2 separate regions of the Homo sapiens genome follow, and region 1 is linked to region 2. Evidence: fine-mapped expression QTL. A gene starts in region 2. The other region holds a variant in brackets. All regions are shown on one strand. Distances are from middle to middle. Region 1 overlaps ZDHHC2 (zDHHC palmitoyltransferase 2). Region 2 holds the start of ZDHHC2 (zDHHC palmitoyltransferase 2).

Region 1 (11,937 bases), 28 kb after region 2:
CATAAAGTATTTTTGTCATAATCTTTTGAATGTGAGCTACTTCTGTGAATTAACTGAAAATGTTTTCATAACTACATCCTTGTTTTTTCAGTTAGTTTTTACTTCTAACTAAAATGATATCATAAATGCTAAGCTTCAGCACAGAGGTAGAGTCTTATTTACCATTTTGTTCTCAACAGTGTAAGCACAGTATAGTCAATTAATGTTTCTCAATAAATGAGTTAAAGATAAACAGAAAAAATGTAGAGCTTGGCTATAAAGTTATCCTTCAGATTCATCCATTAGGACCAAGTCTCTGTTTTGGGGTGTTTGTGTGTGTGTGTGTGTGTGTGTTTGTGTGTGTGGGGGTGGGGGGCGGTATTCTTCATTATCAGATGTCTGAGGCTAGGCTGGAAATTGCATAGTGGTTTTATATTGAAAAGTTAGTGTGTATGAGCAATAAAGGTAAATTATTCCTCCAAAGGAGAGAGATTGAATTTGAAGACAAGAAAAAGAAAATTCAGATTAAGAAAATAAATGTTAAAATCACAGCAATATACATTTGCAATAAAATACCCCAAAATCACATTGTTTTAGAAACACTTTACTGTTCTTTGCTAAGTCAAAAGGGGGAGTTCATTTTTTGTCTATTATGAAGGTGTAGTAGCACACAAGTAGCCATGTAAGTATCTGAAAGCTTGAATTTTGGATATATTTATGACTAAAAGTTCAACTAGATTTAAGTTACCATCAGTTTACTAGGCTGCTGTATCTCATTAGATACCATTTAGGACAGTAACACTTTAATAATAATCACCAAAGCCAATTTTTAAATAATCAATTGGTAAAAAATGTACGAGTGGAATAACCGTTGAGATGATCTCCTGCTTTTAATCAAGGTTGAATTTAAATCATTCTAGACTAAATTAATATATATAAATCATTCTAGACTATATTAATATATAGTATCTATATATACACATACACACACATCCTATTAAATCTTTTTCTGTGGAGAACCCTGACTAATACATAGGGCTGGAATACTTTCTTCATAAAAGGCTAAACAGTAAATATTTTAGGCTTTGCAGTCCATACTTTCCCTGTCTCAGCTACCTAACTCTGTCATTGTAGCACATAAGTAGCCATGTAAGTGAATGGATGCATACATGTTTCAATAAAACTTTATTTATAGAAACAGGCATCTAGCTGTGTTTGGACCAAGGGTTCTAGGATTAAATGATTGCTTGGTAGTTCAGTCAAAAGAGATAAGGGAGGTATACATTTGAAAGGATGTTTCATTCAAGCCAGGTTGGATTAAGGAGCAGTTTGTCATCCTTTTCTATATTATGGGTTATTACTTTGACAGTCTCACTCTTTAACTTCAATTTTACCTGTTTTATTTTTACACAAGGATTTCTTAAAAAACAATTAATGTTATAACAAAAAACTGTCACTCTTATCAGTCTTACCAATTCTAAACTGAGGACTGATTAGTTCAGCCTTTTTATATGTTGTCCTACTCTGTTTCTTTCTCTCTTTTTTTTGAGACAGGGTCACGCTCTGTTGCCCAGGCTTGAATGCAGTAGCAGGATCACAGCTCACTGCAGCCTCGACCTCCTGTGCTCAAGTGATCTTCCCACCTCAGCCTCCCGAGTAGCTGGAACCATGGGTGGGCACCACTATGCCTGGCTAATTTTTAAATTTTTTTGTAGAGATGATGTTTCACTGTGTTGCCCGGGCCAATCTCAAACTCCTGGCCTCAAAACTATGCTCTCACCTTGGCCTCCCAAAGTGCTGGGATTAGAGGTTTGAGCCACTGTGCCTGGTTGTCCTGTCTTTCTTACGGGAATGATCAGTGGCGGTGGAGGGGGTGAGCGTAAAGCGCAGCCAGATAATACAACTGGTGACCCAATCTACAAGCTTTGTAGCATCGATGATGGTTCTAGATTTTAAGATGAAGTTCTTTTTTTGTTTTCTTTATTTCTTCTTCTTTTTGTTTTAAGAAACAGGGTCTCACTCTATCGCACAGGCTGGAGTACAGTGATGTGATCATAGCTTAGTGCAGCCTTGAACTACTGGGCTCAATCAGTTCTCCTGCCCCCAGTCTCCCAAGTAGCTGGGACCACAGGCAGTGCCACCACACCCAGCTAAAAAAAAAAGTTTATTTGTAGAGACACAGTCTCAATGTGTTGTCCAGGCTGATCTCCAACTCTTGGCCTTAAGTGATCCTCCCACTTTGGCCTCCCGAAGTGCTGGCATTTCATGCGTGGGCCGCCCAGCCCAAAATGTGATTCCTGAAGGCCATAATTTTACTTTTGGCAAACAGGAACATTCTTGGTAACTATAGTAGTAATTTACCTTTTTCACTTTCTCTCTTCCTATATACCGTCAGGGCCAAGAAAGTGCTGCAGTTCCCACAATTAATCACAGAGGAACTTGAAGTTCTGGAGGTATATTGGAAGATTAGAAATTGCTAAAGCAAAATATTATCATTGTAGGGCATGGACCAAAAAGAAATTAGGCTAATCCAAGATAAAATGAGGCAAATAAGTGTTTGAAATTAAAATTAAAATTGTGATTCACAGTGTTCCTATTGTGTGTATTTAGATGGTATGAATGGTGCCATCCACCAGATGTAGGATTGGTAAATATTTTAGTGTAATAATAGCAATGCTTTTAATTCCCAGGAATAAACTGCACCTAACTTCTTTGGGGTGATTATAAGATTTAGGTCTTTATTTTTTTTTAAAGTAATTGTTTTTATTCATTAAGTTAAACAGTGCCTATCCAAAATAGATTCTTTCACATTTAAGTTCTCAAAAGGACTAACTGGCACATCAAGATCGAAGTTTTAACATCTCATCATTACTCTGTGTTAAGAATGAAGACCACTTTTTTGGTTTAAACAAGTTTCTGAAATGACACATCCGTTTAAAAAGGCAATTGACTTATAAGATAATTCAGATTTACATTATTTTTCACCTTTTATTTTCACTCGCCAAGTCTATTTTTGTTCAACATTTTGCATTTATTTCTTTCAGGAGCCTGTACAAATATTACTTTTCTCTTTGTAATTTGTCTTCCTTGTTTAGCCCCCTTTCCTATACGTTATACATTACAGTTAATATTATCAAGATGAAAGATGATATATTATAATTGTACATTCATGGGGCTTACTCTACACAAGGCACTGTGTTAAGTACATTGTTTTATTGTCCCTTTGAATTCTCGCTACAGCCCTAATGCTACTGCTGCAGCAATCACCCTCATTTTGTAGTGGAATAAGTGGGATAGCTTATGTAAGCCAGCAAGTGGCAGAGGCAGGATTGGACCTTGCCTTCTTTATCCCCAGCCATTGCTCTTTGGTGCTATTATGCTTAGTAATAATCTCTTTTCCATTTTGACAAATTCAACTATAAAAAAGTACAATACTAAGGAAGAACCAAAACCAAGCTGGGGGTGGAGGGAACCCTGTGAACTTATAGACCCTGTCTGTCTTCAAAGTTGCTTGAAGCCCAGTTGAAGCCAGTATCTCCCTCAGCTTTTTCCTTTTTAAAGGAACAGGAACCATTTTGTCTTCTCCCTCTCTCCTCTCTTTAGAGAAGTGTTTTCTTCACCTCACAGAAGAGATTACTTTCGCTTTTTTCAACTATCAGTTGAGTGCTATGGTGTGCTAAGCTAACATGGTAATAGAAATAACTTTTCTCTTGAGTTTTTCATGCCCACAAAAGAAAAATGAATACTTCTCATATGTCCGCTTTGATATACCAGTTTTATGTGATTCAAATTAGTTGTCATGGTCTGTTTGTCTAAGTCAGTCTCTTACTCAGTAAACATTAATGGGGCAGATGCTCTATGCCAGTTCTTGTGCTTTAATGAGGAATTAATTTTAATATGATCCAGCAGAGCTGGAAGTTGTAACGTTTTTGTTACAGGCAGGAAATGTTTAAATTGAAAATAAAAGAATTTCTAAGGTAGAATTAATGTGCTATTCGTCGTGACTTTGAGAATAAAGCTCATTTGCTTTAGTAAAAACTGAGTAAACCTCAGTTTTCTGTTGACAAAAATTGAAATAACTATTAATTTATCTCAATAACTGGTTTAAAGGAAATGAGATAAAGAAGGCTATACAACACTTGAAATTTCTCTATGGTAAAAATTGAAGAATAGGTATCAGCATCATTGTTAAATCAAACAAATTGAAATTCTGTCTGTGAAGTAAGAAAATTAAATAATCCTGGATTAAAACTCAAAATCCACATTAAAACCAATAGTTATTTTTAGAAGACCTGTCCCAATTATGTTCAGTATTGCTATTTAGTTTTTGTATTGTTATAAATAATCAAATTATATTTGATTACCATCTATATTGTTTCAAAAATGAGTCTCTATTTTTCATATGTTATCTTTATATACATAAATATTAGAAAAGTGTTTGAGGCTAAATTTGAGCAATCTTTTCTTGAACAGTTACTTTTGAACAAAAATATTTGCATTTGACAATAACTTTGTATTTTATGTGTTTTTACTCTGTGAGAAAGGAAACTTTGAACTTGACAACTCTGCCATTAAACTGAAAATTACAAGGTAAATCACTGATTTACTAATTAAGTAACCATGGTTGAAAGAACATTCATTTCCTGAGTATCACAAAGCAAAACCTTGCATAGTCCATATATCTGTTAATGAAATAAGTTAATTTGCAAACTTTGATAATGTTACTTAATCAGTGGCAAGTGATAAAAATGTTGCTAGTACTTATTAAATCATTTAAAATAGCTATATGCAGTTTTATTTGCAATATATATATAACAGATATGAGATTTCTGTCCAGAATATATAAAAGGCTCTCAGTAACTAAGTAGGCCAATAGGAAAATAATCATTCACATAGAAGAGAAAGGAAATCCCAATCATAGTGTTTTAAAAATAATGCCAAACTGCACTAATAATAAGGGAAATGAATGCTAAAATAATGATTTTTATTTAGGCCTATGATGTCGACAAAAATTAAACAGAGTTACGTTTACAGGAAATTGAACCGGCTCATAATCTTGGCGAAAGTGTAATTGGATACAGCCTTTTGAACTGATCCCTTTCATTCTACAAATGTTACACAATTATTTACTATAAAGATGAATTTATGTGTAAGTTGTGTACTTTTAAAAAAATAGAACATCTGTGGATTTTGAATTACATTTAGGGAAAAGCAAACTGTGAATGGCAATAATAATAATAATAATAATAGCTTTAAAAACAAAGTCTTTGAATGCATATCAGGCTTATAGAGTAGTGGTCCAGGTCAAAAAGATTAGCAACTCGTACCAACTACACCTTTTTTTTTGTTGTTGTTTTTGAGACAGAGTCTCACTCTGTTGCCCAGGCTGGAGCGCAGTGGCGTGATGTTGGCTCACTGCAACCTCTGCCTCCCGGGTTCAAGCGATTCTCCTGCCTCAGCCTCCAAGTAGCTGGGATTACAGGCGCGTGTCACCACACCTGATTAATTTTCTGTATTTTTAGTAGAGACGGGGTTTTGCCATGTTGGCCAGGCTGGTCTTGAACTCTTGACCTCAGGTGATCCACCCACCTTGGCCTCCCAAAATGTTGGGATTACAGGTGTGAGCCACCGTGCCCAGCCCCTAACTATACCTTTTTCAAAAATGTCACTTTGTCTTAGTTTTCAGTTCTCTCCACTCGAGTCAGTGGAGTAGCAAACACATTTGTATGCAAGCACCAGCACCTCTGGAATGGTCAGTAAGGGTCATTCATATATAAATGCACAAATGGAGTCAAATTGCTTTTCCTTTCCTTAGATTGGCTCCACTGAAGGATTGGAAATTTTGATCCAGAAAAGAGTTGTCAATTTTGGAGCACTTTTGAAGACAGGGTGTAGTCAGTGTCTAGAAAGAAATGCATACCTGTGGCGGTAGGTTCAGATATTAAAAAACAGGCTTGCCTCAAGCCTCTCCTGTGCCCTCAGATGAGCTGCTTCAGGGATTCTATGAGAAAGCAAACTCTGACTAGCCTCTGACTTACAAGCGGACTTGGAGAACAGGCCATTTGTAAATCGAAGGTCATCCAGGCCTGCCTGTCTCATTCTGGAGATCAGAAATGTTAAAAGGAGTGGAGAACCTAGGAAGCATTTACAGATGCCACATCTACGTTAGTAAGAGATCTGGAAACCATATATTAGTTGGTGTAAACTAGAACATTTAAGGGGGACACTATAACATCAAATATGTGAAGATCTGTCATTTAGATCTTCTGTTTGTTGCTATGGTTTGGAAGCCTCAGTATCACAGGTAAAAGTCACAAAGCAGCCAATTTCAACACCCTGGAAGGATGAATTTTCTTATTCTTAGGGCAATCCAACAGTGGAACGGGCTGCCCTCCAAGAAACTACGGGCTTCTGCTAGCTCTAGAAATGCCTGAACTTATATTTGGTAGCTCTCTTGGGCAGGAGATTGGTTGGACTGAGCAATCTTAAAAATTTCTCACACTACCCTCTGGTTCCAGGCTTCAGAAGGCAGCGCATTTCATTCCAGCACCAAGGCCTGAGGTCCCGTGCCCTTTTGAAAAGCTGAATAAGGACAAAAATATACAAAGTCAGACTTGCTACAGCTGAGATAGGGCAAAACTTCCAAAGACTCTAGTACAAAGAGAGAGACCAAATGGGAAAACAAATAGACAATACAAAAGGCGTACATATGTCTTGATTACTAAATACAACTTCTTGCCGCAGCTTGCTTTAGTGCTTGTGGCCCCTGTCCT[C/T]ATCTATAATACCTGCTAGCTTGGAATATTTACAACAGCCGCTGAGGAGTGGCAGTTTCCCAGCACTGCCTGGCCTTTCGTTGTGCAACAGGGAGCAAGTAAAGTCACTGTGCATAAGCATTTGTACTTTTAGAAATTAGGGGGAAAAAAAGTGTGTGCTGTGGACACATTTTATTCTTTGTGGAAAGCTCACCAGGTGGTTGCCAGTTTATCAAGAGCAATAAATGCCTGCGGAAATGTAATGACCTGGAGAGCATTGCTTTTATCTGAACTCTATAGTTGGAAGGAAAACCAGTCAACCAAATGATACAGAAATAAGACCCGCAAGGGGCACACTTGACAAGTTTTGTTCCGCAGGACAGGAGCCAGGGCTGAAGTGCGCAATGGAGGCATGGCTGACTGCAGCCTCCAGCCGTTTCCTGCACCCTCTCCACACTGTGCTCACCTCTCCTCCAAATAAAGTTGAATAAATATTTAGAGAATGTTGGTTTGAAGGGAAGCCACATTATTAAGCTACTTAAATGCCTTATGTCTGTGTCAAGCCCCGTTTGCCATAAGCTTCATGTAACCTATTACCTTTTTTTCTCTTTACAGTGTCCATGGAAAACACTGGCGAACAAGGTAAGCTAGATTATATTAATGTTATAGATTTTTTAAATAGTTTGAAAAAAAATTGTATTCACTTAGATTTGGTTGGGATTAATAAATTGTTGTTTGAGAATGTGGAGACAAGCTAGGGTTAAAGATGTCTCATTTCTCTTAAGTTTGCAGATTGAATTCTGTCAGACCCTTGGCAAAGAATTCTATCCTGAAATGGCTGTCATTGTGCCAGAGATTCTTAAGGCTTTGAGGTATAGGGATATCAACAATTTCCTTTCCTAATTCAGATTATGAACTTATAACTGAGTCACCTACATAATTTATGAAAAATATTGTTGGCTTTAGTCATCTCACACCGATTTAAGTGCCTTATTGAATAATTCAAATTTTTAATGATTCTATGAGTATCCTCATTCTTTAGAAAAATTTAAAATTGCTATTAAAGTTTTAAAATGCCAAATATGCTATATTTAAATTAGCATATTTTATTCAATGATATCTTACAGAATTAAATTGTGTATTAATGTATTACCCAGAAGGAAGCATTATCACCATATAGAAAATTAATATTTAAAATTTGGGCCGGGCACAGTGGCTCATGCCTGTAATCTCAGCACCTTGGGAGGCCAAAGCGGGCAGATCATTTGAGGTCAGAAGTTCAAGACCAGCCTGGCCAGCATGGTGAAACCCTGTCTCTACTTAAAAAAAAAAAGAAAAATACTAACATTAGCCAGGTGAGGTGGGGCATGCCTGTAATCCCAGCCACTCAGGAGGCTGAGGTAGGAGGATTGCTTGAGCCCCAGGGGGCGGAGGTGGCAGTGAGCCACTGCACTCCAGCCTGGGCGACAGAGTGAGACCCTGTCTCAAAAAAAAGGAAAGAAAAGAAAAGAAAATTTTGGATAGTATTTCAAGACTTTATAACACCACCCAGAGTGTGTTTATATGCATTACTGAAAAAAGTATTCAGAACACTTTTTTAAAACAATTGTCCCATGTAATAAATAAGACACTTGAACTCCCACTGAAGGAAATCTCTTTGTCCAGATGTTCTCCATTTAAATGTGTTATCATTACACCAGCTTTGACTAGAGCCAAGCAAATAAGCAAACAGCTTCTCAAATAGGAACTGCCTTTGTTATCTGTGTCAGTAAAGCAAAGTTCTTAAAGCCTGAGTGTTTTAACACTTGTTTTTAATGCTGTGTTTGCTGTTTAAATTTGGAGGCGTAACTGCCTCATTTTTACAATTTAGAAAAGGTCCTTGTTAGTGATTTTGCCAATAGATGGTCTGTCTACAGATGGGAGGCTTTTATTCATGGGCATAGATCTCATTATGCATTTAGGAATTTTTGTAAAAAACTCTTGGCTTTGGAAATAAATTCGTTGAGTTGTGTTTATTCTAGTATAAAGTAAAGGAACTTTCATAATGTATTATAATTGGTAATTTGGTTATTTTAAAACAAGCAGATCGGTTGTGACTGTCATAATTTTAGTATGTATTTGCATATTATAATGATAATTATGTTTTTCTCATTTTAGTTGTGTGCCTGATGGCCTATCATCTACTTTTTGCAATGTTTGTCTGGTCATACTGGAAAACTATCTTTACATTACCAATGAATCCTTCAAAAGAAGTAAGTTAAAATATTAACGAAATTATTCTAATAATAGAAATCAATAATACTGATGTATTATTGAAGAACGAATTTTATTTTAATGTTGCAAACTTATTGAGTTTAGTGACTTTTTAGATTAAAAAAATTAGTATTTCTGTTAATAAATACTTGAATTTTCACCTGGAAATATTAGTGTTTTCACCAGATAAGCACTGCATTTTCTGTATTGAATCTGTTATGAATTCCATTTCCACTTTAGAGTCAGACATCAGGATGGATGGATAGGTAGACAAAGATAGATAATAAAATAGAGCTAGAAGGTAGACATAATTCTATGATAATTATCACATTAAAGGTGTATTAGTTGGTTATCAGCCACCAGAAACAACAACAACAAAATAATGGCTTAGCTAATCTTCTCTGCATTCAAAAAGTCTGTAGCTAGTCCACAGCTTCCAGGTGCCCACACTCCTTCTATCTTGTTTCTCTGCCACGTGTAGCCTCCATTTCCAAGGTCCCCTCTTGGTCTAAGGGGGACTCTGCGGTTCCAACCATCACATCTACATTGTAGCCAGCAGACCAAAGAAAGTAGGAAAGAGAAGTAAATGTCCTCCTCTTCAAGAACACTTTCTAGACATTGCTGACGTCATTTCCACTTACATTTAGAAGTTGGTTATATGGCCACATCTACCCACAAGGAAGGGGGGAGTGTAGCCTTTCTTCTCGATGACCATGTTAAACATGAGAGAAGAAGAGAAATATGGTTACTGAGAGACAACTAGCAATCTCTGCTTCAGAGGGCTTTAAGTAGAGTGATGGATCAAATTTGCATGTTGAAAAGATCATTCTGTTTGTTTCTGGATCATGCATCCTGGTTAAACGTTCTTGGAGCAAAGAATTGTGTCTCACTCATTTTTGTATCCTTGGCGTATAGCCCAGTACATTGTTGAATAAAAATATACTTTGCTAACTCTAATAACAGTGTAGTTTTAGTAAGCCAAGTTTAAAAAAAAAAAGCATCACTGTAGACTGTTTACTGAAGTAATCAGTTTGAAATGCAACTTTGGTCAAAAAAGCCAATAAATATGCTATTTGGCTTGGGAGAGGATGGTAAAAACCACAGATGTTTGCGCAGAATTAATGGTATGCCTGGCTTAGAATGCCTATCTATTGCCTGTTTTTCTTCTATTCTCCACTTCTTTTTCTATCCCAGTCTTTTTTTTTCCTTCCTCCTACCATATTTGCTTCTTTTCCATCATCTCTCTTACCCTCATCCTGTCCCTAGTAGTAGGTTTGAAGAAAAATACTGACTTCTATCATAGGTAGTCTCATCCACTCTGGTAGTTTACATACAACCTCTGTTTTGATAACTCCCAAATCTGTTTTGAGTTCTAAACTCCCCCTTAAATTTCAAACTTATGTATCCCCCTGCCAAGCATAGCTTCTTGATAATTCCACCAACATCTCAAATACAAAACATCAAAAACAGACGTCATCACCTTCTCCTTCCCCAGACTGTGAGTCATCTGTTTCTTATGTCAGTTAATGGGCAGTTTATCACTGCTCTAATTCTGGGTCTTCATCATCTCCCTTGTCTGAGATATTGTATTCTTCTCCTGGTAATTTGGTTATTTTAAAACAAGCAGATCATTTGTGAATACCATAATTTTAGTCTGTACTTGCATATTATAATGATAATTATGTTTCTCTCATTTTAGTTGTGTGCCTAATGGCCTATCATCTACTTTTTGCAATGTTTGTCTGGTCATACTGGAAAACCATCTTAAGGTTTTCTGTTTACAGCCTGGCCTACCTTTCCTTCCCAGAACCCCACAAAACTTCATCCAATACCCTGAAGCTGGAGTGGTCCTCCTAAAAACCAATGTAACGCCTTCCCTCTACTGCTTGTATCTATTGTGATTCCATATATCCCACAGGGGAAAGCTCAGTCTCTTCTGCCTAGCAATAGCAGCTCTTGTCTCAATTTCTGACTTTATACTTTATACTCTAGTAGTTCTTAACTACACATAGTTTCCTGTATACAACATGGCATTATTTCCTTTCCAAAATATTCTTACCCCTTTCTCATGGAAATAATATATTTATTTTCCATTCATACTGGCAGCTCCTTCTTGGCCTCCTTTGCTGGTTCCTCTTCAGCTCCTAGACTGCCAAAGCATTGGAATGTTCCAGAGCTTAATCCCTGGACTTCTCTTCTTATATACCTGCATTTATTCCCTCGTGGATTTCATTGAGTTCTGTGACTTTATGTGTCACCCCAGTGCCGCAGCTCTCAGATTAATATATTAGCCTGGTGCTTGCTAATAAACGCCTGACACATTTCCAGCTCCCTATTTGACATCTAATAGAAATTTCAGGTTCAACACAACTGAAAACAAACTTCTGATTTCTCATTTAATTCCCCAGTTCTTCTAGTCCTAAAGTTTTCTTATGTCAGTAATGACAGTTTCACTCTTCTGTTCAGGCCAGAAACATTGGTGTCATCCTTGGCTACTCTTTTTCTCTCGGACGCCACATCTAGTCAATCAGAAAATTCTATACCCTCACCCTCAGAGTATGGCCACAATGTGAACTCATGTGCCGCACTGCTCCCTGCTCCCACCCCGGTCCAAGCCACCATCCTCTCTCATTTATAGATTTGCAGTAGCCTCTTAACAGGTTTCTTTTTGTTGGGTTTTTTTTTTTGGTGTTTTGTTATGTTTTTTTTTTTTTTTTTTTGGCCTCCTCTTGTGTATTTTCAACACAGTAGCCAAAGTGATCCTTTCAAAAGACAAGGCAAATCTCTCACCTTTTTGATGTCTTTATACAAATGGTACCTTATCATTGAGGCTGTCTGTGATGACTCAACATAGAATAGCAACCCCACTACCCTCGGCTTTCCCTGCACCTTACCTTCCTGGATTTTTCTCCATAACATTTACCATCATGGCAACACACTGCATATTTATTTG
Region 2 (11,937 bases):
TTTTATCAACCATGGAAATAATCCCAAGAAATTCAGAATACACAGTGCCTGAGTATCACTTGAAAATAATAATTCAAAGTCTTTGAGCTATAGGACGTAATTACACTGGATAAATTCTAGTTGACGGAAGAATCCCTGATGATAAAAATTTTTCTCCTACAAATCCGAAGCCAACATGCCTTTTTTGTTAAATGTCATCATTAAATATTTATTCTTTATTTTGCCTGCTCTTTTTGAAGGCCAGAGAAAACTCTGGTTAGACTTTTTTCCTTGTACAGTTATAAATTGCGGTGTAAACTTGATGTCCAACTTACATGTAAAGTCTTTGACAATACTTGTCCGTACTTATTAAAATTAAATATTAAAACTTATTTGATGTATTTTCTTTTCTTTCTTTCTGTCTTTCTTTCTTTTTTTTCCTCCAGGGGAGCATGTCTTGAACCAGAGCCAATGTGGGTTTCCACAGACCACGGGGCAAGACACGTTGACTTTACCTCCACTCATATCTGCTGTACAGAAAACCCAACATGATTAATCTAGCCTACAATTTGACAGAGACAGAATTGAATATAAGCAGTTATTCCTCAGGTGCCCCCAGTGATTACCTGCTCTTCCAACAGAACAGAAAAGGTCTTAACGACCACGGGATAAAGACACCATTCTGTGTTTCAAGGCTGGAGTTATCCAGGAATAAAGCTATATCTTCAAGCACTGTTGGTTTAAAATCTAAATCTAATATTTAGCTTTATGTAAAGGAATTCGGACATAGCAATCTAAGTTTCTCCGTGCATACCCTTTAAAGTAATCATGTAGATATCTACATTTTCTGGAACATGGACAGTCTGGTTGCAGACAATGGTCTTCATTCTCACAGTAGACACAGCGAAAAGATGGTTTTTTACTCTTTAGATTCATCTTCAAAGGAAGAAATCTCCTAGTACCAAAAACGTAAAATTGTTTTCAGCTTCCTGTTACTTCTCATTTTTGTTTCTATAAAACAGTGAAGGGATTATTACATAGGGGACTTTTTTGTTTTTTACATTTACACATGTAAGCCTTAGGTTGAAGAAATCGATGTATACTGTTCTATGATCCAACTGGCACCTTACTCTTCTTTTCTCCCCCAAATCAATAGGTCTTTTATTGCATCATTTAAATATCACAAATAGGTCTTAGGAATCATCCGGCATCTTGTTTCTGTACCTGGACTACTCTTAGGTCTTATTCAGCAGCCTGCTTAACTGTTCCTTTTTCAGAGACGTAAATACCATCCACACATTTTCTGATATCCTTGTTTTTATTTAATTGTCGTGGCTGGCTGAATCAAAGCAGCTGAATTTGCAACAAGATCAATGTCATTTCCTACAAGGGTTAATTCATCTTTCTGGGCTTGAGATACTGAACAAGCAACACCTGGCCACTGCCAAACCCTGTGGATTTATTTTTCACCGAGGAAATTTCAGAACTCAACCAGAGACCTATTCTTCCGGATAACGACATTGATGGAGAAGTGAGTACACACAGAGCTCATCTTGCAGCGGAAGCCCAGCACAACATCCTTGACCATGTCCTGTGCATGACTACAAATAGTGCAAACGGCAGCCAGTTCCTTTCTGTTTCCCCACCATTTTTTGTCAGTGCCGGAGCCTCATTTTTTTTCTTTCCAAGGAGACTGAGGTCTACATTGATGTGATTGAAGTCCATCCACAGGGTTCCTCTAGGGCCTTTCGCAATTACTGGGTATCCCTTCAAAGTGATATCTACATTTTCTGGAATATGGACAGTCTGGTTGCAGAGAATGGTTTTCATTCTCACAGTAGACACAGCGAAAAGGTGGTTCTTTACTCTTTGGATTCCTCTTCAAAGGAAGAAATTTCCTAGTACCAAAACGTAAAATTGTTTTCAACTTCCTGTTACCTCTAATTTTTGTTTCTATAAAACAGTGAAGGGATTATTACATAGGGGACTTTTTTGTTTCTTACATTTACAAGAATAAAGCCTTTTGAATATTCAGACAAGACAAAATGTCTAAACAGTTCTGTCCAACAGAACTTTCTTCAATGATGGAATGTTCTAGATCTGCAGCATCCAATGCAGTAGCCACTAGCCACATGTGGCTATTGAGCATTTGAAATGTGACTATTGCAACTAAGAATTTCCAATTTCATTTCATGTTAATTTTAACAAATTTGAATAGTGGCAACAAATGTTACTAGTGGGTACTTATTGAACAATGCAGGTCAAGAGAGTGTGATTTGAATGGCACCAAGTAAGCTTCTTCACCCCCAAATTCCTGTATCCCTATTTCTCAAGGTGCCTTGGTCTCCATGAGCTGAAACTAACTCTTTAAGCAATGAGATGCAGAATGAAATTAAAACTACGTGCCATTCAGAGTTCTTGGTTGTAAACACAAGTCAACTCTAGTTGACTTACATAAAAAATGTTATGCAGTTATATAGGCACTCCTCCAAAATCAAAAGGAAGCCTGGAGAATCAAGCTTGAGCTGGAACAAAGGAAGCTGGTGCATGGCCAAGATCTTGCCACCAAGAACAGTCAACCTAGGATGCCATTGCTGCTCTTAATATCCCTGGACACTTGCCACTACACTGCAGAATTCTGCTGCCCTTGGTCACTCTCTGCTGGCTGTTCAGCTCTCAACTCCACAACGGCCACTTCTAATAATCTCCAGTTGAACTTCGGACATTGTATCACCCCTTAGAGATCCATAGTATAGCTGTGTCAGTCCACTGGAAGGACATGTCTGCTCACCTTTTGGGTTCATAGACAGTGCCCCTCCCCATTTAGGGGCAAAGAAGGGAAACAGTGTAAGCAAAAATATTATTTCAATGAAAATTTCCTATTTTATTTCCAAAGAGATTGACCTTAGTGCGAATTCTAAAGAAGTGCACGCAGAATCAGAACGATTTACTATATAGAAAAATGCTTTAAGTCTTTTAAATTTTTTGAATAGGGTTGTCGTTTTTATTAATCGTTAGCCATTAAATTATAATATAAAAACTGTATAATTATAACATAACTTTTTGTTTTGAGAAGGAGTTTTGCTCTTGTTGCCCAGGCTGGAGTGCATTGGCGTGATCTTGGCTCACTGCAGCCTCCACCTCCCAGGTTCAAGCAGTTCTCCTGCCTCAGCCTTCCAAGTAGCTGAGATTACAGGCACCCGCCACCACGCCCAGCTAATTTTTTGTATTTTTAGTAGAGATGGGGTTTCGCCATGTTGGCCAGGCAGCTCTCAAACTCCTGACCTCAGGTGATCTGCCCGCCTTGGCCTCCCAAAGTGCTGGGATTACAGGCGTAAGCCACCGCGCCTGGCCAATTATAACATAATTATAATTAGTTACAATGATATATAATTGTTCATGAAGTTATAATTCATATTTATAATTGCCTTGCTTAAGCTAACAGTTGATAACTATTGAAATCTATGGAGAAAAGGTGAAGACTGCTGCACTGCTTGGTGTGTGCCTGCCATCTAGTGGCAGGACACATTAATGCTACCGTGAAAGCCCTAGTGTGCCTGAAAGGCAGGTTTGCCAGGGACAGTTTGCTCCACTTTACATTGTCCCAGTGTTTCGACCCAATCAACTGTATACAGAGACATCCTTAGGCTTTTGAAATTATCTCCCATTTTATTCAATATAATTACAGCTGAATTGCAAACATAAATCTCTGACAGCCAAAACATATCTAAGCATTACTTCATTCCTACATTCCCTAAGCGCGATTCCTTTTCTTTTATTTTATGTATCTCCAGAAACAAAAAGTGGTTTAGGCATGCTATTCTTCTCCCACAGAGAATGTTTTGACCGCTATTATAAACATGCACATTGACACTGGAGTCACTGATGTCATGGACTGCTGCCTTCTAAAGAGCTCTTCTCCCCCAAAAGAGTGATAAGATTAAGTTTGAGAAAATAATGAAAGAGAATCTATCAGTATTCATGCAGACCACTCTAGTAAGGATGGGAGAGCCATTAGTAAATAAGATATAGATCCAGACCTCAGCTTCATTGCTTCCAATCCTTGTAAGATTTAGAACTCCTTGTATTTGTGAAGTATCATACCCTCTTAGCAAACTCAAGACAATCAACGTCTCATATACATGAGACTAATACGACTGACCTCATATCTTGTTGCAATGTTGCCCTCTAAGAACCCTTCCAAAAGGAAGGAGTAAATATCAAGCAAGTGTCCTAATAGTTTCTGGTAGGTGTTTTGGCTGAAAAGCTTGAGATGAGGTTGGCATAGGCAACATTAAGGGGGATCTGTGTTCTCTAGCAGCAGGTGCGTCCACGCCTTCCTGGGTTTGGCTAGCATGCTATGTTTGATTCATACTATGCAAGGGACTATGTTAAAATGGTAATCTGGATCTGCAGGCAGAAGGAAGATTAGCAGTATTAATCATGAAAGTACGGCAGACTTGAGGTTTGGGAACTCAAGAATTTGGGGGACTGGGCTGGAGGGAGAGGAGGAACGTTTAAGGTTCCTGGGCTGGGCACGGTGGCTCACACCTGTAATTCCAACACTTCCGGAGACCGAGGCGGGCGGATCACCAGGTCAGGAGTTTGAGACCAGTTCGGCCAACATACTGAAACCCTGTCTCTACTACAAATACAAAAAATTGGCCGGGCACGGTGGCGGGCACCTGTAATCCCAGCTACTCGGGAAGCTGAGGCAGGAGAATCGCTTGAACCCGGGAGGCGGAGGTTGCAGTGAGCCGAGATGGCGGCATTGCACTCCAGCCCAGGCAACAGTGCGAAATTCTGTCCGCCCCCCCCCCCCAAAAAAAGAGAGATTCCTTCATGGGGCAGGAACTGAAAATAAGAGTTGTGAAAATTTGAGAGGTGAATGATGTTGCTAGACCGCTGAGTGCAAGGAGCATACAGGCAGAGGCCTAGCGAGGATGGAGTCATGGTCATTAGGGACTGGATGAACCCAGCAAGGGGGCTTTTCTCCCGTTCTCAGTCACTCCCCTCACCCCCCTCCTTGCCTGGCTGTCCGCTCGTCTCTTCTCTTCCTTAGCGTCGCCTTCTTCCTCCTTTGCTGTGGCTGGCTTTCTTTTTCATAAGTGGTCATATCAGTTTAATCACAGTTATACATGAAACCTACAATTTCTTATGCTTATTGAACATTTAAATTAAAATTCGTGAGTTGAATCTTCTGTATTTCTAAACAGTAAGTCTCTAGTGAAGTTTCTTCTTGTCTATGACCTTCAAATTATTTTTTCTGTTTATGTAGTCCTAAAGAAAAAGAAAATAAATCAAAGGCTCTCTATACCTCAAAATAAAAGCTCTCCTTCCACTCTCATCAAAGACTAGTATCTAGAGATTGGCTACTCACCAAAGAGCTTACATTTGTGCGTGCTGCTTATGCCTAATTAGAGACTACGCAGAGATCAATCCTGTTATCTTGTGGCTGTGGAGATGCTTCTTCCTAATCCAGACTTTTTCTGTATTTAAGATAAGAGAACTTGAAAAACCCAGTAATAGTAGTATCCTTAAAATGGCAATAACAAAAAAAAGTTGAAAATATTTCACAAATATTTATTATAAATAGGAACAATTAAACAACATCTTAGATGAGTAATAAAAATGTAGCTCCTTCAAAGATATGACACCTGCATACTTTTCCAAAAGGGTAGATGATGTGAAAACTGGGCAGAATGCTATTCCATTTCCGATTTCAAGACCCTGTAGGACTGTGAGAGGAGGAAGAGCACAGGGCATCGTCGCATCCAGGATCTACAGAGGCACTATTTGCACTTTCTCCACCGTTTCCAGTATGGAAAATCCGATTCCTTCCTTTTCATACCTTGATGGTCTCTATTGACCTTCAGTCACTGATTTGCTTCTCTTTGTGAGGGTATTTCAGTCCCAGGAGGAAGTTTTAATTCCTGTTTTTTACTCTCTTCTGATTGGGGGGGAACACAGGATTAATATTCATGGAAAACATTAAGGAATCCAGAGAAGTTTTATTTTTACATTAATATACAGAATATCCACAGAGAATATAAAAGGCTACAGCAAAATCAAGTGATTCACTGGGACATAATATGTCTCTCTTTTCAATTATTTAAAGTCCCACAGAAACTTGACTGACATTTTCTATGCATTTTTGAAGAGAAATGGAAAGAGATGTGGGGTGGGGGGCTGTAACATAGTAGCTATTTCGGGAGAGATTAGCTTGTTGTGTAATCCAGTCACAGAAAGATAATCGCAGACACCAGAGCTAAATTTCTTTGACTGAATTCATGTAAATCAGTATTTTTTTTTTACTTCTACACATGAATAAGAAGTAATTTCATTCACTGTGGTTGCTGTGTGGTGTAAATACACATATTCACTAATGTTAAGAAAAATTGTGCCTATTATGTATAGTAGTGATGCACATAATTTACACACACTCATTGATTGAAATGTTTCCCTGTGGATCAGGTGCGTTCATAATCAGATGAAGGAAAAGCAAAGGAGGCATTTGTTTATTTTCCATTTCGTGAATCATAAAATCAGAGGTTTGGGCTGACTACCTTTAGGTTCCCTTACGGTGTTTTTTGGGAACCGCTTTGGAGTCAGCTATCTGCTAAGTTTGGAATTGCCACCACGAAAGTAAACACCGTAGTGAGGAGCGGGTTGAGGAAAAGAATAAATAGTTGGTGGAAGGAACCACCGTACTTGAGGGAGGGGACAGTGGGAACGGCCCCTGTCACAATCATTTATCCAAAGCATCAACATTCTCAGAGCAAAGAACTTGTGTTTCTAACTCCAGAGGTGCCTGGATTCACAGCCAAAAATGCTTCTTCCTCGCTCTCCACAGCCCCTCCCATGCCAGACGCCGGCTCGGCACCCCCTCTTCGCTGTGCATTTCTGCTTCCCCCGAAAGCCCGAGTAGTAAAGGGAGGCTCCTTGCGGCCCCCGCGGGCTCCCAGGGACCCGCAAGTTGAAGCGCGAGGGTTCCACGCGGGCTGCGGGGACGCGGGCCTCGGTGCTGCAGACTTTCTCAGGGCGCCTGGGTCGCGGCAGGCGCGGAGTCCCGAGCGCAGCAGCTGCTCCGCCGGCCTCGCCTCCGACCCCCGCCCTGCGCCAAGCGCGGAAGCGCTCGCGACCTAACTGCCCCGGGTGCCGGGCGCCTAGGGAGGGGCCGCCACCGCCCGCTCCGCCCCGGGGGCCTGCGCCCAGCAGCCCCCGCCTCCCCGGAATCCAGAGGCCGAGCCGGAGGCGGCGGGGCCACGGTGGGAGCCCGCGAGGTGGCCCGAGCGAGGGCCCCGCATCCCCGCAGAGCCCGCCCGAGGGCGCAGCCTGCCACGCCAGGGGAGGCGGCCGGGCGGCGGGGAACGGCGGGGGCGGAGCGCAGCCTCCCGACGCCGCCGCCTCACCGCCCCCCTCCGCCTCCTCGGCCTCCGCTCGCAGCCGCCGCCTCCGCCTCCGCCGGGCTGAGGAGCCGGGAGTCCGCCGCGCCGGCTCGGGGCTGCGGGATGGGGAGTTAGCGCCACGGCGGCGGCAGTGGCCGCAGCGCACCCCGCCGCCGCCCAGGAGCCCGTCCAGCCAGGGGTGCCGGGCCCGCCCAGCCCGCCCCGGAGCCAGGCCCGCGGGCGGCGGCGGAGCTGGGCAGGTGGATGCGGCTGGAAGATGGCGCCCTCGGGCCCGGGCAGCAGCGCCAGGCGGCGGTGCCGGCGGGTGCTGTACTGGATCCCGGTGGTGTTCATCACCCTCCTGCTCGGCTGGTCCTACTACGCCTACGCCATCCAGCTGTGCATAGGTGAGTGCGCCCCCCGCCGCGGCGCCCCCAGCGCAGCGCAGCCCACCCCGACTGTCCCGGGACGCTCAGCCGCTCCTCCGCTCTCGCCCCCCGGATGCGCCCCGGGCGCTGCCAACCTGCCGCGTCCCGCCGGCTCCGCCGCTAAAAGCAGCCTCGGGGCAGCTTCTTCCACGCGCACGCCCCTCGCCCTCCCCTCCCAACTCTCGGGTTAAGGTGGCGCCTCCGCCCCGCACTCGCCGCCGAGCCTCCCGCCGCCTTCCGCTCACCGCCGCCGCCTCGGCCACACCCCCTAGAGGGGCGGAAGGTCCCCGGGACCGCTGTGGAGAGGGGAGGCCGAGGCCGGCGAGGCGCGCCGGGGGCTGAAGGGCTGAGCTGGGCCCGGCCCCGAGCTGCGCCAGACCCGCGCGGGGGTGCTGGCCTTGGCGGCGGAGCTGGATCCCTTGCTGGTTGGCGTCAATGCACTTGTTAAAAATTTGTGACAGCGCTCAGGGGCGTTTTTGCTGCCTTTATGATTTGAGGATTGCCAGTTGGACACTTTTCTAGTTTAAAAGGATGTGGAGGAGGTGAGCTACTAGAAAGTATTTTTGAGGACATGTGCAACACACTAAACCATAATTTAGGTGTTTGAACAGTAGGGAGAGAAAAAAAGAGGTGATCGTCTGAGGTTTTTACATCCAGAGAGCGAAGTGGCTCCAGTCCGAGTTCGAGGTTCCTGAATTGGTGGGTAGGATACTTTTAATGCTGAAGATTAAAATTTTTTAAAAAGTTGATTATTATGCACAAGTAGGGAGTACAATGATGTCGCTTAATGTAAGCTGGTTTCTACCTTCAGGGGTTTTATGAAAACTGATCTGGGTTATCAGAAAAAGATGTTAAAACAGAAAATGACCTTTCTGCCAGTGACTTGTGAATGCTTTCTGTGTTTGGTGCTCCACCTAACAAAGTGTCTGTTTTTGCCCTACCAAGTGCTAGCTTTGGGTGGGACGAGGGAAAAGATGAAATAGTGGCCTATTATATTGAGCCTTCACAAGCTCAGCATTTTCAAAGCCTCAAGATTCAGACATAAAATCTTGTCTGAAGCCATCTTACCTCAAAATGTTGCGCCTTGTGAGAAAGTGTCATAATAATACATCAAAATAATCACTGATGTAAGTTGTAAGAGAACCGAGACTTTTATTTCATATAGTTTTAAAATTTGCTGTTATTACTTGAAGGGATTTAGAAACAAGCTTAATAGTCCAAAAAAAAAACCTTGAGTCTGTTGTTGGGAAAAGATGAGGCTGTACAGGCATTATCATGAGGATGCATTTAGGTATGCAGTCGTCAAGTCATCTAAAATATATAGGAAAGGACGTGTAGTAAATTTTGTATTAACTGTTAATCTTAAAATAGCTTGCCTTATTGAGATAGACTGTATATGTTACGTAACTGTTGGGAACCTTTGTTGTGTTTCATTCCTTCGTCCTCTTAAAAACAGTGACCAGTATCGATTAATATAACCTGCAAAGAAGGGACATCCTAGAAGGCCTTCATTATCAAAATAGCCTATTCTCCTGTATTATCACATTAAGCTAAGACGCTTATCTTGGTACAGTGTCTCCTGTCCATTAAGAGGAAGCATTTGAAGGCAGAGAGAGCTCTTCTGCCCGTTAGAAGGATGTCTGCTCCTAGCTGAGGTGCTATATGGCAGATCTTATTATTGTATTGGGTAGACAGGTGATGGGGAAGGAACTAAATGGAAAATTGGTATTATATCTGAATCGTATGTTTATATGTACTTTCTGTAAGTTTAAGACAAATCTAGAGTATCCATAAAATCCGCATCAGTATTTTAGTAAGTGACGATTTGACTAAGAGGAAGAATGCCTCTTTTTAAACTGCCTAAGTGGCGTGGCCTGTTATTGATACCTTATCTATCACTTCTTGTCCCTGCCTGCCTGGCGCAATGCCTGTCTGCCTGGCGTAATGCCTGTCTGCCTGGCCTGGCGCAATGCCTGCCACATTGAAAACAACAGTAAGTGGTCTTGAATAAACAAATAAATGATTCAGAGGCACTATCTCCTAGGTTTTCAGAAAGTAGCTTTTATATTTTTATTGCTGTAGAAACAAAAAGTAATTGTTATGAAAGATCTAGATTCTAGAGTCTAAGAAGGAAGAACAAGTTGAAGCTGAATTTGATTCTAGAGACCATGGCAGTTTATGAGTGGCAAGCTTTGCATAGCCTTGGTCGAGTGGGAAGTTGAAATTTCCTTATAGGCACTGGGAAAGATGGCGACTAGTGTGACTGACACACAAAACCAGACTCCCAGACTCCTTTCCTTTTCACAGACAAAGCAAATGGAAATACCAGCCCCCACCCTACCCCCAGTATTAATCACATCTCAGACTGCCCTGCCCTTTGAAGATTCTTTTTCTCTTGGAAGTTGCCATTTACAAGCAGATTTTCCAAATTTCTTCCATAAAACATTGGCCAAGGTTGGGACCAGAGTGTGGGGGTCGAGGGCTGGGAACTGGATCAGGTAGCAAATGGAATAGAAGAAACAAGGTGATTTACCCTGGTCCTCCTTCCACATCTGCTCTCAGCTAGGGATGACCCTGAATATAAATTATTCTGTGCCCTTTGCTGAATGAACTGCAATTTAGGAGTAGTGCTTATCCTGGTATCCTTGGAAACTGGAGATAATGATTCTCATTACAGTTAGTTTCTATATTTAACAACGTGGATGTATGTGGCTCTCTAGGCACTTTTTCAGTTAGCATAATTTTTGCTTAGTGTTTGTATTTTATAAAAATAACCTCTCTTTTTGGAATATGTGTATATGTAAAATATATGGGATGTACATATATTGTGTGAGAGTCAAGTATTTTTGGTTAAGTCAGCTTCCTATTCTGCCAAAGAAAAGATCACAAAAGACAGTTATACTTCTAATCATTTGGACCACGTTTATCTCGTTTGTTGATTAACGAGGCTCTTCTATTTGTATTCCTCCCCCTCCATCCTTTCCTTCTCTTACCACTCCTTTTCCCTCTCCCCTGTCCCTCCTGTCCCTCTCTCCACTCCTGGCTTCTTTTGTGTTTTAACTCTCTTTGCTCTCTTTAGATATTAGGTTGGTTTCCGTCAAGTAAGATAAACTCAAAGGTAACATTTGTACGGGGAACTTTAGGATGCACTATGAGAGGGAATGAGGGAGGTCTGCAGCCTCAGGCATGCTCCATTCAGCGAGCACACGACGTGGTTTATGTTTTACAGATCCCTTATGGCTGCTGCTGTGTTAACTTCGCTTGTTGAAGAAGGTTCACTGAAGTTTCCCCTTTTAAGTGCTAACATTTAAATTGTTTTAACTATTTCATACCGTTTTCTTTATTTCAGATTTACTGAAAAGTTTCAATAGTACAAGAAACTTCCACATACACTTGTGTAACCAGTTCAGTTCCCATTTTTCTTAAATATATTACTTTCCTGCTCCTTAGGCAGGTGCTATGGGACGTTTATGATGATGTTGCGCAGTCATGTAGTTCTGAATTTGCTTACGGTTTTAGTTACGTCATTTTAAACGATCATGAATTTTCAAAAGCTTAAAGGTCATCCAGGCTAACCCCTTCTGTATTTTTAAACGAAAGAGTTAAACTAAATTCCAGAGTTGCCACAAGTTCAATGTCCTTCCTCCGAGTTACCTAGCGGAGGTGTCAGCTATGACCTTAGCTGCTGTAATGCAGATGTCCAGATGTCTCCTTTTCCCAGCAAACCCCTCTCCAAATATCTTAGCCCATTGAAGTTATGCAGCAACTCTTTTTAACTTTATTATCGTTTACAGAGAGTTGACAGAGCTCTGAAAATAAGCCAACAGTCTTTACACAATTTTAGAGATTTAAAGGGCTTTGTAGTTTGGGGCTATATAGTACATATTTTTGGCTTTGCAAGCCGTGTGATCTCTGTTCCAACCACTCAACTCTGCTATCTTAGAGAGCGGCCATAGAAGATACTTTAACAAATGGGCGTGGCTTTTATTCAACAAAAATATTTGGCCAATCTTGGCCCTTGGGCAAAAGTTTGCTGAGCTTTGGAGTATGTGGGAAGCTAGACCACTAGAATCTTGAGGTTTTACTCGCAGTTTTGCTGTCTTTATTACTAAACATCCTTCAGCAGTGATTGCAGCCTGTTA

The links. PIP is the estimated chance that this variant, and not a neighbour inherited with it, causes the effect.
Region 1: its variant is fine-mapped to the expression of ZDHHC2 in pancreas (GTEx, PIP above 0.99). The same link has a PIP of 0.9 or more in unexposed skin.

What each region holds. Positions count from the first base shown.
Region 1 is chr8:17,177,443-17,189,379 of GRCh38, forward strand. It overlaps ZDHHC2 (zDHHC palmitoyltransferase 2), which reads left to right. Exons shown (of 13, transcript NM_016353.5): 2 at 7,347-7,373; 3 at 8,889-8,983. Among named protein-coding and RNA genes, the nearest start is that of ZDHHC2, 27 kb to the left of the region's middle. The variant C/T (reference allele first, on the strand shown) is at 6,753.
Region 2 is chr8:17,149,080-17,161,016 of GRCh38, forward strand. ZDHHC2 (zDHHC palmitoyltransferase 2) reads left to right here and starts at 7,403. Exons shown (of 13, transcript NM_016353.5): 1 at 7,403-7,774. The coding sequence starts at 7,645. It also overlaps the pseudogene RPL9P20. RefSeq lists a silencer at 6,862-8,221.